Homo sapiens: one gene and its partner. The protein of the gene in region 1 purifies or fractionates together with the protein of each later gene. This does not show direct contact. Each region holds a gene or a part of one and is shown on either strand. Other genes may lie near its edges. The genes, in order: SMC2 and NCAPG2.

What was found.
Region 2: the proteins of SMC2 (region 1) and NCAPG2 purify together in Homo sapiens (affinity purification with western blotting; 4 studies listed by BioGRID and IntAct, with this or other methods). This does not show direct contact.

Annotation. Positions count from the first base shown.
Region 1 is NC_000009.12:104,097,112-104,104,395, forward strand, and holds part of SMC2 (structural maintenance of chromosomes protein 2), read left to right. Parts: intron 1-1,334; coding exon 1,335-1,457; intron 1,458-2,532; coding exon 2,533-2,571; intron 2,572-2,981; coding exon 2,982-3,092; intron 3,093-3,277; coding exon 3,278-3,322; intron 3,323-4,848; coding exon 4,849-5,082; intron 5,083-5,312; coding exon 5,313-5,462; intron 5,463-7,284. UniProt on the Homo sapiens protein: Central component of the condensin complex, a complex required for conversion of interphase chromatin into mitotic-like condense chromosomes.
Region 2 is NC_000007.14:158,694,792-158,702,075, forward strand, and holds part of NCAPG2 (condensin-2 complex subunit G2), read right to left. Parts: intron 7,148-7,284; 5' UTR 7,109-7,147; coding exon 7,031-7,108; intron 1-7,030. UniProt on the Homo sapiens protein: Regulatory subunit of the condensin-2 complex, a complex which establishes mitotic chromosome architecture and is involved in physical rigidity of the chromatid axis.

The DNA of each region.
Region 1 (7,284 bases):
TGTCAAGGTTTTTTTTTTTTTTTTTTTTTTTCCTGAGACGGAGTCTCGCTCTGTTACCCAGGCTGGTCTCCATCTCCCGGGTTCAAGAGATTCTTCTGCCTCAGCCTCCTGAGTAGCTGGGACTACAGGTGCCCACCACCACACCCGGCTAATTTTTTTTTGTTTTTTGTATTTTTAGTAGAGACGGGATTTCGCTATGTTGGCCAGGGTGGTCTCAATCTCCTGACCTCATGATCTGCCCGCCTTGGCCTCCCAAAGTGCTAGGATTACAGGTGTGAGCCACGGCGCCTGGCCCAAGATTTTGTTTTTAAAAATGTTGTCAACTCCTATTTACTGTCCATCTTATCATTTATCACTTACAGATTTTCTCCTCTATTTTAATGGAAGCCTCTGGTTGAAAAAAAAAAAAAAAAAAGAAGCGTAGGCCACGTTAGGACAGAATCCTGTTCCATGTCATTAGGCATCCATCAAATATTTATCCTTTAGGAACTGTCACTAAGTCTCTTACTAATAATCTACCTAATTGTTCCTGTCCTCATTCAGGCCATAAACTTGTATCTTCACCAAAATTATAAAATTTTTGTCAGAGAAGGGTCTTCAAATACATTAATATATGAACTACCAACCTAGTAGTCCTGTCAGGAAAAGAAATGAACTAACATTTATTCAATATTTATTAAATAGTTGATGTATATTGGGTGTTCTTGAATGTACTGGGATGTACAGTTAGAAGAATGAGAAACAGAGCTTGTCTTTAAGGACTTCAATCTGGTAGATGAGACAATCATACCCAATAAATGACAATTTAAGTGTGATAGTAGAGTATGGTGTCTGGGATGACTTAATGAAACCATACTGAAGCTCCATGATTACCCTTTCTTTTAAATGGTCATAAATCATGTCTTTATTAATAGCTTTTTGAATCTTGTCAAGAATTGATACTAAGCTACTTTGTCTGACATCTATTCCTGTTGAAAAGTAGAGAAAGCCTCTAGAAAAATTACAGAAAGAAAGTAACTAGGAAAGTGTGTTTTACATATACTTGGAAACATAAAGCTAGAAGTTACCTCGGAGACCTAGTCTGGTGCAGGCCAGGGTAAGAGGCTTGTGTGTAATTACATAACTAGTTACCAAAAGTACTTGCATTAGATACTAGCTGTCCTGACTCAAGTTAGCGTTTTTGACCATGTCATACTTGTTCCACTATTTATGCAGAATTGGTTTTGTTTACTGCTAGTCAGACAGAACAAATAAACGTAAGCTAATATACTTAGTTTATCCTAGCACAAGGTGTGCATGTACATTAATATTTAAAAAATTGCTTTCTTTTATAGGTGGTTATTGGTGGTAGAAATAAATATTTAATCAATGGAGTCAATGCCAACAACACCAGAGTACAGGATCTCTTCTGTTCTGTTGGCCTTAATGTTAACAACCCTCACTTTCTCATCATGCAGGTATTTCGTTTGAGGTCTTTATATCACTTTCGTAATAGTTTCGACATTTTTTACTTTTAAGCAATTAAAATAGAAGTACTTTATGTTTTGGATTTTATACTTTTTATTTACTATTGTGCTGTGTCCGGCCATCTGTTTAGAAATATGGTTTAGTTACTTGCACTGATATATTCTACTGGATTATAGACCTTTGACTCCTCTAGAATGTTTAGAAGTAATTTTTGTTGACTTTTTGTTTTGTCACTAAAAGAACAATACATGTTAACTGTAAAAAAAAAAAAGCCATAATATATCCTTTTAAATTATTGGATTAATGCATCTTAATATTTCAAGTATAAAAGCTTGAGTAATTTTCTTAGAGACTCACACAAATGAGGAGTAAAGGCTGATTTTATCTTACATTTACATTACTTCATTTGACCCATCCAGCTGCCGTTTGAGAGAATTATAGTAAAGTCGATGGGAGCATCTCAGTGGGACCAAAATAAAAATATTTCCACTACACACCTTCATAGTTGAAACTTTACTTTAAATGAATCTACATTCTAGTAATACAATTCTCTGAGACCTGGGTGTGCAGGTGTTTTGCTTTATTTGTTTTTGGTAATGAATAAATTTAATGGTTTTCTGGCATTGATGTAAAATATTGTATTTTGTTTGAGGCCTAGAAGTATGTCATCTGTTTTGTGAAATTATCCTGGAGGGTTATCATTCAAAGAAATGTTAAAAGTTTTTTAATTATGCTGAAATTTCTTTTTATATTTACCTGTTTTAAATTTGAATATTTCTACTTAATGTTAACTGTCTCAGAAACATGATCCTTGTTAACTTTGTATCATTTAATGAATTATTTCATTTGTATCATTTCATAACTTCCATAATTTGTATCACTGGTGAGAAAGTGAATAGCAAAGTTCCAAAATTCTAGAATCATAGAAGAATTATAGAGGAAAGACCCCCCCAAAGATTGGTATATTGAGATACAACAGCTTCAGTCTAGATAAACATGAATGGCAGTACAGATAAACATTTTCTGTAATTTGTTATCTTAGTAAGTTTGCTATTTTATTTTCAGGGCCGAATTACAAAAGTATTGAATATGAAACCTCCAGAGGTAAGAGTACTATTTATGGACATTAAAAATAGTTGGTATAGATATTACTTTAATCTTTCAGACAATTTTTAAATATTCTATTAAAATTTTTGGAGACATTATTTGGGAATGATTAGTAAAGACAGTTGTATATTTGTGTAATATTTGGCACTATGCCCAAATATTAAAATTGATTTTGATTGTATAAAGGAGTCTTGCTTAGCTGGTGTTTCATGTCAGAATTCATTCCTACAGAAAAAGCCTACAGGAAAAGGTTTGTGTGAAATTACTATATTTAACCTATATGGTTCATTTGGGCCAACTTTTGGTAAGATGTTTAGTGAGGTCAAGGCAAAAATGATATATTTAATGTAAATTCCAGTTGGACACATTGTCTTGGATACTAAACATTAATAAAATTGTCATTCCAGATTTTATCCATGATAGAAGAAGCAGCTGGAACCAGGATGTATGAATACAAAAAAATAGCTGCACAGAAAACTATAGAAAAAAAGGAGGCTAAGCTGAAAGAAATTAAGACGGTAATTTAATTCATATAAAATATTTTCGGAGAAGAATGTAATTTTGCATGTAGAGTTTTTGCTGTAAAGAGGGAAAAATTTTTTTCCTTGGTTCAGTTTTCCATAGTCATCCCTGCTACTTCTCTTTCAAATAAATTTTAATGATACTTTACATGCGAAAATACTGATTTTTCTTTATTTTCCAGATACTTGAAGAAGAGATTACTCCAACCATTCAAAAATTAAAAGAGGTATATTCTGTATATGTGAGGATAATCTATTAGAATGTCTTTCAAAGTCAGCAATGTATCCAAAATCATACACATAGTGATACTATTTCTTGGGGGTTTTTTTCCTGCGATGAGATAAGGAATTAGAGTTGGCACTCCATAACTCAGCGTTCTGCTTACAGAGGATATGCACTTATCTGCTAAGTCATAGGATATTGGAGAGTAATTTTTATAGTTTCAGAAAATGGTATGCCGAATTTTAATACTTTATTTAAGCTAAGCAAGTCTGGATTTTCCTAGTTAGTTAGCATTGACTGGAACAACATTTCTTAAAGATAAGGCACTCTTAGACACCCTCATTGAGAACAATTTCCAGGATAACAGGGGCTATCACTATAATTATTGCTATCAAGGTATTTTGTAAGCAAAAGGTATTGAAACAGAGGATTGGATTGTCTCTGTAATCTTTGCAGCTCCTGACTGTCAAAAGACATGGCACAATATGTCATCAAAAAATGCATTTATGAGCTACGTTTTCTTTTTCTTGAGACTAGTCTCACTGTCGCCCAGGCTGGAGTGCAGTGGTGTCATCACAGCTCACTGCAGCCTCCACCTCCCGGTCTCAAGGGATCCTCCCACCTTAGCCTTCTGAGTAGCTGGGACTACAGGTGCATGCCACCACACCCTGCTAGTTTATTTTTTTGTAGAGACAGGGTTTCTCATTGTTTCTCAGGCTGGTCTTGAACTCCTGGGCTCAAGTGATCCACCTGCCTCGGCCTCGCAAAGTGCTGGGATTACAGGAGTGAGCCACTGTGCCCAGCCAAACGACGTTTTTAAAGCTATCTCCTTTTAGGAATTTATTAAATGCTCATTGAAATTTGGTACTACTCAGAGCTGTCTTGTGAATCCATATAGTAGTATAAATTTTACTGGAAAAATTGTAATCTTGAAGATACCCTTTTTGTATGTATGATTTAGTAGAAAACACTAGATCAGGAATTTAAACTTAGGTCCTAGACTTCATTTTGCCACAATTGCTTTCTAAATCTAACAACATGGACAGATCATTTAATCATTCTGAATTTGTTTTTTATGTATAAATTAAGGATTTTAGTTATTACTTTGTCTGGTCCCAGTAGGTCCTTATGGGAGTCGTGTTTAGTAATGATGTAAGCGAGTGCTTGTAGTAGTGCTTCAAAGTATATTAGAGTAGGCATCTTGATACTACTACTACAGAATCCATGTAATAGTGTAACATGGTGGGTGTGTAAGCTTATGAACCTTATGTCCATATTTCTTTGTTAAGCTCAACTACCCAAGTGTGTGTTAGAAGAAATAGCCAAATAAGATTCACTAGAGATGGTAGAATGCTATCTAAAAGTCCTGACTTCTGATGTTACGTAAAGTTTCCTACAATTTAAAATGCTATAATTGTTTAATACAGGACAAAATCTATTATGTAATGAGAAATTTGTTTCATCTTGCATAATTGAATTTTTTTTTTAATACAATTTTGAGTTATTCTTTTTTTGTGATTTCTCTTTCAGGAAAGATCGTCCTACTTGGAGTACCAAAAAGTAATGAGAGAAATAGAACATTTGAGTCGTTTATATATTGCTTATCAGTTTTTGCTGGCTGAAGATACCAAAGTACGCTCAGCTGAGGAATTAAAAGAAATGCAAGATAAAGTTATAAAGCTTCAGGAAGAATTGTCTGAGAATGATAAAAAAATAAAAGCACTTAATCATGAAATAGAAGAATTGGAAAAAAGAAAAGATAAGGTCTGAACATATGTATAAGAATCGATAATATACTCTGTGAAAAACGTACTAAATTATATATAGTAACTATTTAGGATTCATTGGGCATTGTCTTCCGTATTGATTTGTTAATCTTATAGTAAGATAATGAAATAACTTATAAAAAAGTGTTTGATACAGAACTCATACAATAAAATGACAGCGTGAACAAATTTTACATAAGTGATTGAATTGACTGCATTTTGTTATAGGAAACTGGAGGTATACTTCGATCTTTAGAAGATGCTCTTGCAGAGGCTCAGCGAGTTAATACTAAATCTCAAAGCGCATTTGATCTCAAGAAGAAAAATCTGGCATGTGAGGAAAGCAAACGCAAAGAGCTGGAAAAAAATATGGTTGAGGTAAGTGAGCTTAATGTGCCACTAGTGCCACTTGTAGACAAGTATATAGTCTCATTAGTGTACATTTATCTATTCCATGAATATTTAGTGAGTGTCTTCTATAAGCTAAGTACAGTTGTTTGGGCTGTGGTTACAACTGGACCAAATGGTCAAAAATCCTTGCCTTGTGGACCTTCATTCCATTGGGGGAAATGATAATAAAGAAAATAAATAAAACATGTAACATGTTATAGAGTGATAACTGATGTGGAGAAAAAGCAGGGAAGGGGATTAGGAGTGTAGGGGAAAAAGAGTACAATTTGGGATTTTAAGTTGGATAGCCACTGAAGTAAGTGGAGAATAGGAAGAACGGGTTTGATAAGCTTAAGAAATACAGTATGAATATAATAGGCTTGAGGAGCCTGTTAGACATCTTGAGTAGTGATGTTGATTAGGTACTTAACTATATGAATATTGAATCCAGGCAAAAATACAGATTTGGAGGCATCATCAATGTATAGGTGTTATTTAAATCCATGAGACTAGATAAAATGATCAAGGCTGTAAGTTCATATAAGAAGGTTGGAGCCCTGGGATACTTTCAACGTTTGAATGTTAGGATAGTTCAACATTCAAAAGAGATTGAGTAGTGTGAGGAAAATTAGGCCAGTAAATTGTCCTGGAGTCCAGGTAAAAAAGATGTTTCAAGGAGAAGTGGCCATGAGTACCTGATTAGATTGTGTTCATACTCTCACAGAATGAAGGCAGAAAAAAGAAAAGTGAATATAGATAACTTTTTGAGAAGTTTTCTGAAAGAGGGATAAATAGGGAGGTAACTGGAGGGTAATACAGAAGAGAGTTTTTGGCTTGATTTGACATGGGATAAATAAATTCTATATTGACAGAAAAGATCCAGTAGAAAAGTCGTCATTTGTGATTCAGGAGAGAGAGATGGGAGAGTTGTTAAAATAGGGCCCCTTAGTAGCTGCAAGTAGGATAGGAACTAGTGTATAGAGGAGGTCGCCTTCGCGAGAACTAGGAATAGGTCATCCATGGTAACAGAAGAGTCAAGTATATAGTCTCACATGTAGGTAGATGAGTAGGTGTGTTTTTGGAGCTTATGGCATTTCTTTTGAGGGTGATTCTGTTGTCCCAGTGAAGGTATACATTTGCCTTTTCACTGAAAAAAAATTAACTTTGTGAAAATAATTTCTTTATACTGCCCTGTTAGATATTTTTGCAGAGAAATACATTGTTGAATTAAGAAACAGTGGAGGAAAATTTAGACAAAATTTTGAAGCGATATGAACGTGTTGTAGCAGTCTGTGTTGTGGCATCCAAGAACTGAAATCAATTCATCAATTACTTTTTTTTTTTAGGTGAGGTTTGTAAAGCTCTAAACATGTGGACCTGCCTTGTTTTGGGTTCATTTTTCTTTAGTCTTGTCATGTCCTTAAGCTTCACACACTGATTGCTCCTTTTTCATCCTTCTTTTCTGTATCCCCTTATTCTTCTAGATCTCTTAATGTTAGTATGCCCTAAGGCTAGCACTCTGATATCTTTTATAAACTCTCACGCCATAGGTGGTCTCATCCAGCTCTGTAACTCTAAATATCATCTATATGTTGATGCCCTCCAAATCTATAAGCAGGCTTAACTCCCTAAACTCTATGAAGCAGGTTTATTGTGTGCAGATTACCAACTTGTCTGAAGCCAGCAGACATAACACATTCATACACAACATTTTATGTGAAATGGATTTATTACTTATTGATAGGCAACAAGGGAAAACAGAAGTCTAGGATTCATTGCAAGCTGATCTCCCAAGGCTCAGAAAAGCTGC
Region 2 (7,284 bases), on another chromosome or scaffold:
AGCGCTCCTTCATTTTTCATCTAGCTTTTTCCACCTCCGCTTGTTCACTTCTATCTACTCTCTTTCCTCGTTTCCTTGACCCTCCTCCCCTTCAATTCTCCTCTCCATTTTCCTTAAGCCTTTGCCTGTCAATCACATGCAAACACAGACCAGCTCTCAAATGTTTGACCTTAGACAGTATCTTGATCTACCTATAGACCCGACATTCAATCATGAACAATTGAATAATTCTTTACGCCTCAATTATGCAGAAAAAATAAGTTAATGGCCCGCTTAAGTCCATTAATGGTAATTTTCCAGTATATCAATGGACAGTTTTGGTGCTGGGGTCATTCATCTGGGTGATGGACCACAGCTACTGTGTTCAAAGATCAAGAGGTTCTATTCAGGGCAAACTCTGGTGACTGAAGGTGACCAGAGAAATGACTGGGCTGATTCATGACGCTTACATCAGGAAATACTAGTTGACTGATGGTTAGGGCACAGAAACGAATCAGGACCCACCCTGCCCTGAGTAAGTTCACAGTCTAGGGGCAAGAATAACAACCTACAGATTGTTAAAATCTATTAGAGGTGTATGCTGAAGGATATAGCCTGAAGGAAAAGAAATAGCTGCCCATCCACCTATGTGACAAACTAGGATGGGCTGCTAACTCCTTCCTGAAAAATCAACCCTGAAGAAATGAGAGTGAGAGAGGTTCCAGTAACAAACTATAGCAACAAAATGAGACACACACCCAGCTTCACTGAAGGCTGTTTGGAGCTGGGGATGTGAGAAATGAGTGGCTGTTGCCTAGGGCACTGAAGAGCTGGCTGGAAGGGCAAGGAAAGGATGGGGGACAAAAGCTGTTCAAATATCAAAATGTTCTACCTCTCCCCAGCATGGCCTTGGGGTGGTCATTGCCTGGCATTGCCACGACATTAGCAGTGACGGCCCAGGCCTCTAGGGCCATAGGACACTGGGCAAAGGCAGGGCAACACAAAAGCCCAGCAGTTAGAAAGAACACGTGCAGACTAGCGAGCTGCCTGTGGGCATCCTTCCACAACCACCTCCAGCCCCCGGATGCAGAAGCTGTGCAGCCCTGTGCTGTACAGAGCGCACCAGGATGAGGGGCCGGTGGGGTGGACATCCTGCAGGGCCTCTCCTCCCTGTGTGAGTGCCCTGGCCACCTGTGCCCCAGCAAGGTGCCTTTTTGTAGTCTATATGCCCAGAGGGAGGTATCCTCTTGTGACTGGCACAATGTGTATGAAGCAGGGGAAGTCTTGTTGCGTAGCAAAAAACTTGGTAGCATAAAGCAACAATTTTACTGTATCTCATGAATCAGATGCTCACTCTTGGGGACACATGCCTGTGCTTAAGGTGGCAGCTGGGTGTTGGATGTCTGGCACTTTGGTGCCCACTAATGAGGTCTCCCTCTGCAGTCTCATCCTCCAGCCTTTGTGTGTGGTCTCTCTCTCCAGCAGAGGGTGATCCTGCACTTCTTACATGACAACCACGGGCTCCGAGAGGAAGTAGAAGCTGCCAAACTTTCTGAAGGCCACTTCCTCAATATTCCGTCCGTCAAAGCAGGCACAAGCCCAATCCAGATTCAAGAGGAGAGGACATAGGCTGCAGAGGGTTATTTAACAGGATTATCCACAATGTTAAATTTCCTGATTTTGAGGATTTTAATGTGATTATATAACAGAATATCTTTTAGAAAAATACGAACTGAAATGTTTAGAGATAAAGAGGCACAATGCCTACAACTGACTCAAGTGATTCAAAAAAATGTAAATACAAAGGATGATAAAGAAAATGTGGCAAGTGGTAAAAACTGGCAAACCTGGACGTAGGGTATTCAGGATTCCTTTGAATTCCTCTTGCAACTTTTCTTTTAACTTAGCAGTTATTTCAACAGGAAAGAAATTACTTCTCCACCCTAACCCTGCCACCCTCCTCCTCCTAAGTCCACACCCTTAGCTTCCCAAATGTGCCCTGCCTCAGGGGCTCGGCCTTTCCCATTCCTTTTGTCTAGAATCTTCTTTTCCCAAATCTCTGCATGGCCCATTTGGATCTCTGATCAAATATAGTCAGGCAATGCATAGTGATATTTCAGTCAATGACAAACCACATATATGAGAGTGGTCCCATAAGATTATAATGGAGCTGAAAAATTCCTATCACCTAGTGATGTCATGGCTGTCAAAACATCATAGTGTAACAGATTAATCACATTTGTGGTAATGTTGGTGTAAACAAACCTACTTTTTATCATTGTTTTAGAGTATATTCCTTCTACATTTTTTTAAGTTAATTGTAAACTAGCCTTAGGCAGGTGCTTCAAGAGAAATTCCTGAAGGCAATGTTATCATAGGAGATGAGATGACAGCTGCATGTCTGTTATTGCCCCTGAAGACCTTCCACTGGGACAAGATGTTAAGGTGGAAGACAGTGATACTGATGATCCTGACTTGGTACAGGCCCAGGCTTATGGTATATTTGTGTCTTAGTTTTTAACAAAAAAGTTTAAAAAGTAAAAATAGATGGCTGGGCATGGTGGCTCACACCTGTAATCCCAGCACTTTGGGAGGCCAAGGCAGGTGGATCACCTGAGATCAGGAGTTTGAGACCAGCCTGGCCAACATGGCGAAACCCTGTCTCTACTAAAAATACAGAAATTAGCCGGTGTGGTGGCGTGTGCCTGTAATCTCAACTATTCAGGAGGCTGAGGCAGGAGAATCACTTGAACCCGGGAGGCGGAGGTTGCAGTGAGCCAAGACGACGCCACTGCACTCCAGCCTGAGCAACAGAGCAAGGCTCCAACTGAAAAGAAAAAAAAAAAAAAGTAAAAATAGAAAAAAGCTATCAAATAGGGGTATAAAGAGAGTATTTTTAGCAAAGACATGGAATAAACCTAAATGCCCATCAATGATAGACTGGATAAAGAAAATGTGGTACATATACACCATGGAATACTATACAGCCATAAAAAAAGAATGAGATCAAGTCCTTTGCGGGGACATAGATGGAGCTGGAGGCCATTATCCATAGCAAACTAACACAGGAACAGAAAACCAAATACAGCATGTTCTCACTTATAAGTAGGAGCTAAATTATGAGAACACATGGACACGGGGGAACAACACACACTGGCCTATTGGAGGGTAGAGGGTGGGAGGAGGGAGAGGATCAGGAAAAATAACTAATATAACTAAATAACTAAAAATAACTAATTACTAGGCTTAATACCTCAGTGATGAAATAATCTGTACAATAAACCCCCATGAGACAAGTTGACCTATGTAACAAACCTGTACATGTAACCCTGAATATAAAAGTTAAAATAAAATAAAATGAAGAAAGATTTTTTGTAAAGCAAAATAAGTTTGTGTTTTAAGCTAAGTGTTATTATAAAGGATTTTAAAAGTTTATCAAGTAAAACAGTTACAGTAAGCTAAGGTTAATTTATTATTGAAGAAAAATGTTTTTATAAATTTACTGTAGCCCAAGTGTAATGTGTTTATAGTTTACAGTAGTGTACAATGACGTATTAGGCCTTCACATTTACTCACTACTCAGTTATTCACCCAGAACAACTTCCAGTTGTGCCAGCTCCAGCTACACTAAGTGCCCTATTCAGATGTACCATTTTTTATGTTTTATACTGTATTTTTACTGTACCTTTTCAATGTTTAGACACACACCATTGTGTTACAACACTGTGCCTACAGTATTCAGTACAGTAACATGCCACACAGGTTTGTAGCCTAGGACGGTAGACTGTACCATCTAGCCCAGGTGTGTACTGAGCTGCTCCATCTGGGTGTATGTAAGCACACTTTAGGATGTTCACACAACAATGAAATGACCTAATGATGCATTTCTCAGAACCTATCCTCATCAAGAGTCATGTGACTGTACCAACTCTGTTCAAATATCATCTCTGAGGTTTTCTTTAGCCACTCCATCGTTCCCAACTTCCACTTCCACTTGCTTTATCAGTAGTAGTAGTATTTTTTTTTTTTTTTTGAGACAGGGTCTCACTTTGTCACCCAGGCTGGAGTGCAGTTGCACAATCATAGCTCACTGTAGCCTCAAACTCCTGGGCTCAAGTAATTCTACTGCCTCAGCCTCCCAAGTAGTTGGGACCACAGGCACAAGCCACTACACTAGGCCAATTTTTTAACATTACTGTAGAGACGGGGTCTTACTATGTTGCCCAGGCCAGTGTTATCCTGGCCTCAAACGATCCTCCTGCCTCAGCCTCCCAAAGCTCTGGAATTACAGAGGTGAGTCACTGTGCCCAGCCTCCACCTGCTTTATTATTTCTCTATGTGTCTTGTTTTTCTTCCTCTACCACTAGAACATAAACCCCCATTTGTGCAGAAACTTTTCTTTGTGTGTACTATAACCCCAACTCTCAGTGCAGTGTCTGGCACACAGAAGGCACTTAGGACATGTTTGTTAAATGATGGAATTCTCCTCAGTGCTGTGTCCTCCTCCCCATCATTGATTCTCCAAGAAGGACAAGGGCATACAGTATAATCAGCTCCACTCTGGAACACTTGCTTGAAAATAAAAATTTGTTCCAACATTGTCAATACATCAAGGAACAATTTGACCAAAGGCAAATTCCCATTTGCTTATGTGGGATTTCATAGGCAAGAAATACCAGGTGAATGCAGAAAACTGCACCCACTGACTGGAGCCACCAGGATCCCATGAAACACAACTCAGACACCTACCAGCTCAGTCCATTCATACCTGGGCCACACATTGTGCCCCTCACCTGCTATGACCCAAAGGCTCCAACCCCACTGCACTGCACCCTCCCCAGGCCCACCGTGCTCTCCAATGCTCTGTATTCCCCTCTGCCTTGCTTGCCTTTTTCTCCTCTGTTCTACCTCATTTTCTTCCTCTTACACACAGAGGGGCAGGTGTACCTTGGGAGCACAGGCACCTACTCCCAACTATAGAATGTAAATATTTTTCAAGGTAAAGTGCCATGCTTACTATAGTATTTATGCATTTCTTACTGATTTAACATATAAAATTATGCTACTGTTTTATTAGGTTCCTGTTTTTAACATGTCACTGGCAAAATTTTTTAGTGTTGTCCCTCTAACTCCATTTTCCCCATAATCTCTCTGGGTTATTTATTTATTTATTTATTTATTTATTTTAACCAATTCTGCAGAGTGCAGTGACTGTTGGTAATGCATGTGTGGGATTACAGCAGAACTAACTGTACTTGGAAAGATCTACCTGATAGGCCCCAAACTGATTTAAATTCTTATCAAATTGAACTATGGGAAACCATCATTATTATATAAAATGGCATTTCTGTCATTCAACTTGATGAAACCACGTGATGCACAATCCTACACATTTTCATTTTTACACGTAAGAGCCACACGGTGACTAGGTACTAAGCTGAACTGTTAAGTGTTAATAAAGCTTATTGATAAACTAGAGTTAATGCCTCATTAGTATAAGGACTAATTCAGTATTCTCCTGAGATGTCTGCTGGCTTTCCAGCAACACTGCAAAGGCTGGTTGGCACACAACGGGTGGCTGGAAACAACGCACCCCAGAAGGGCACCTGTCATTGTGGCCACCAGTGTGATTTTGAGTTGCTATTTTTACCTCTGATTTTCAATTTAGTTTTCTGTGATTTTGTTAACATTATGGTATGCACTTTGCAACAACAATCTTTTAGACTTTAAAATATGTATGTACTGCATTTCCAATACAATCCATATACACTGCTACTGCTAAAGCAGACATTTATATATTATCTAACTAATTTGCTCTTATAAACACTTCTATGGTGATGAGATGCCTATGAGTTTGCGATTATTTTTAAGTTTACAGGATATCATTTTATAATACCAAAACATGTTATAAGCTCATTTCTCTTATAAAGAAAAATGATTTCTTAAATGTTGCCAGTAACAAATTCATTATTAGATTCCTCTAATTCTTTGTCACTAATTTGATTTTCACCACATAATAAGAACAAGTGAGACAAGTGTGCCAAGGGTCTCCTGCCCCAAAGATACTTTCGTATTTCAGAGTCAGTGCCTCCAATGCTGGCTTCCTCAGAGATGTGTCCTAGGCCCTTTTATCTGAAACTCTACAGAGATAACTGCAGGCATTCCCATGACTTAGGCTTCCATGCCCAACCTGTCTCTAGCTCAGCCCTTTCCCCTGGTATCCAGACGTGCATGTCTGACTACTGGCCATCCGCTGGTGCACATCCCACCACCAGTCATCTGGTACCTCCAAAATGGAGCCACATTCTCCCTTGAATCTGCCCTCTTCCCACGTTCATGAGCTTGCTGAATGGTACTACACAGTCAGACGCCTGGGCCCTTCCCCACCATATCCATATCCAATCAGTCCAATAGTGCCATCACTTCACTACCAAGCAGCTTCCCATTTCCAGTTCCTAATTCAACCATCATTTTGAAGAGCACAACCTAAGAGGTTAGCCTTAAATATGTCCCTTTGACATATTTCTCACTTGTAGTCAGAGGAATATTTCCAAAAGGCAAACCATATTTTTCTCCTTACCTCTATTTTGTCCACTAGTTCTCTCTCCTTCTCTTTTGTTCTCTTCCTCCCTTGCCTACAGCTCGCTCCCTGCTTCAAGCACCCACCGTTCTCAAGATAAAGTCTGAATTCCTTAAAATGGTAAAGACTCGTGTAGCCTAGCCCCCAGCCTCATCTTCTGCCTTCCTGCTGAACTTCAAGTTCAAACACAACAAACCTTCTCTAGTCTTCAGAGTGACCTTCTTTGTTAGATGGGTCCTTTCCCCCAACATCCCTCTTTGACTGGTTAACTTCTGTTTATCTTTTACATCTTAGCGTAGCCCACCAGCAGGTAGATTTGAGTATAAAGGGTTTTGTTTTCTTCTTTCAAATAAACATTGGTCGCTAAGGATTCACTGAGATAACTATGTTTCTTTTGGGGACATAATGACTTTAGAACATATTTCATATTCACAGTCAAAAATCACAACAAAACTAAAACATGAAACTTACATCAAGTTGAACAAATTGCAAAAACTCTCCAACCAGCTCCTTAGACACGGCTTGTACAAACGTCTCACGTTTTTCCATGACAGATGGCACTGTTCAAATGGCATTTATTTTGTAACCCTAATGGAAAACACAATCATACTGAAACACTTGCAAATATATCTTTTCCTGTAAGATTTAATTTGATATTAACATCCAAGAACTGCAAGAAAATTCCTCAACCACGTATGGCAGACAGTTTCTAAAAACATTCTGAC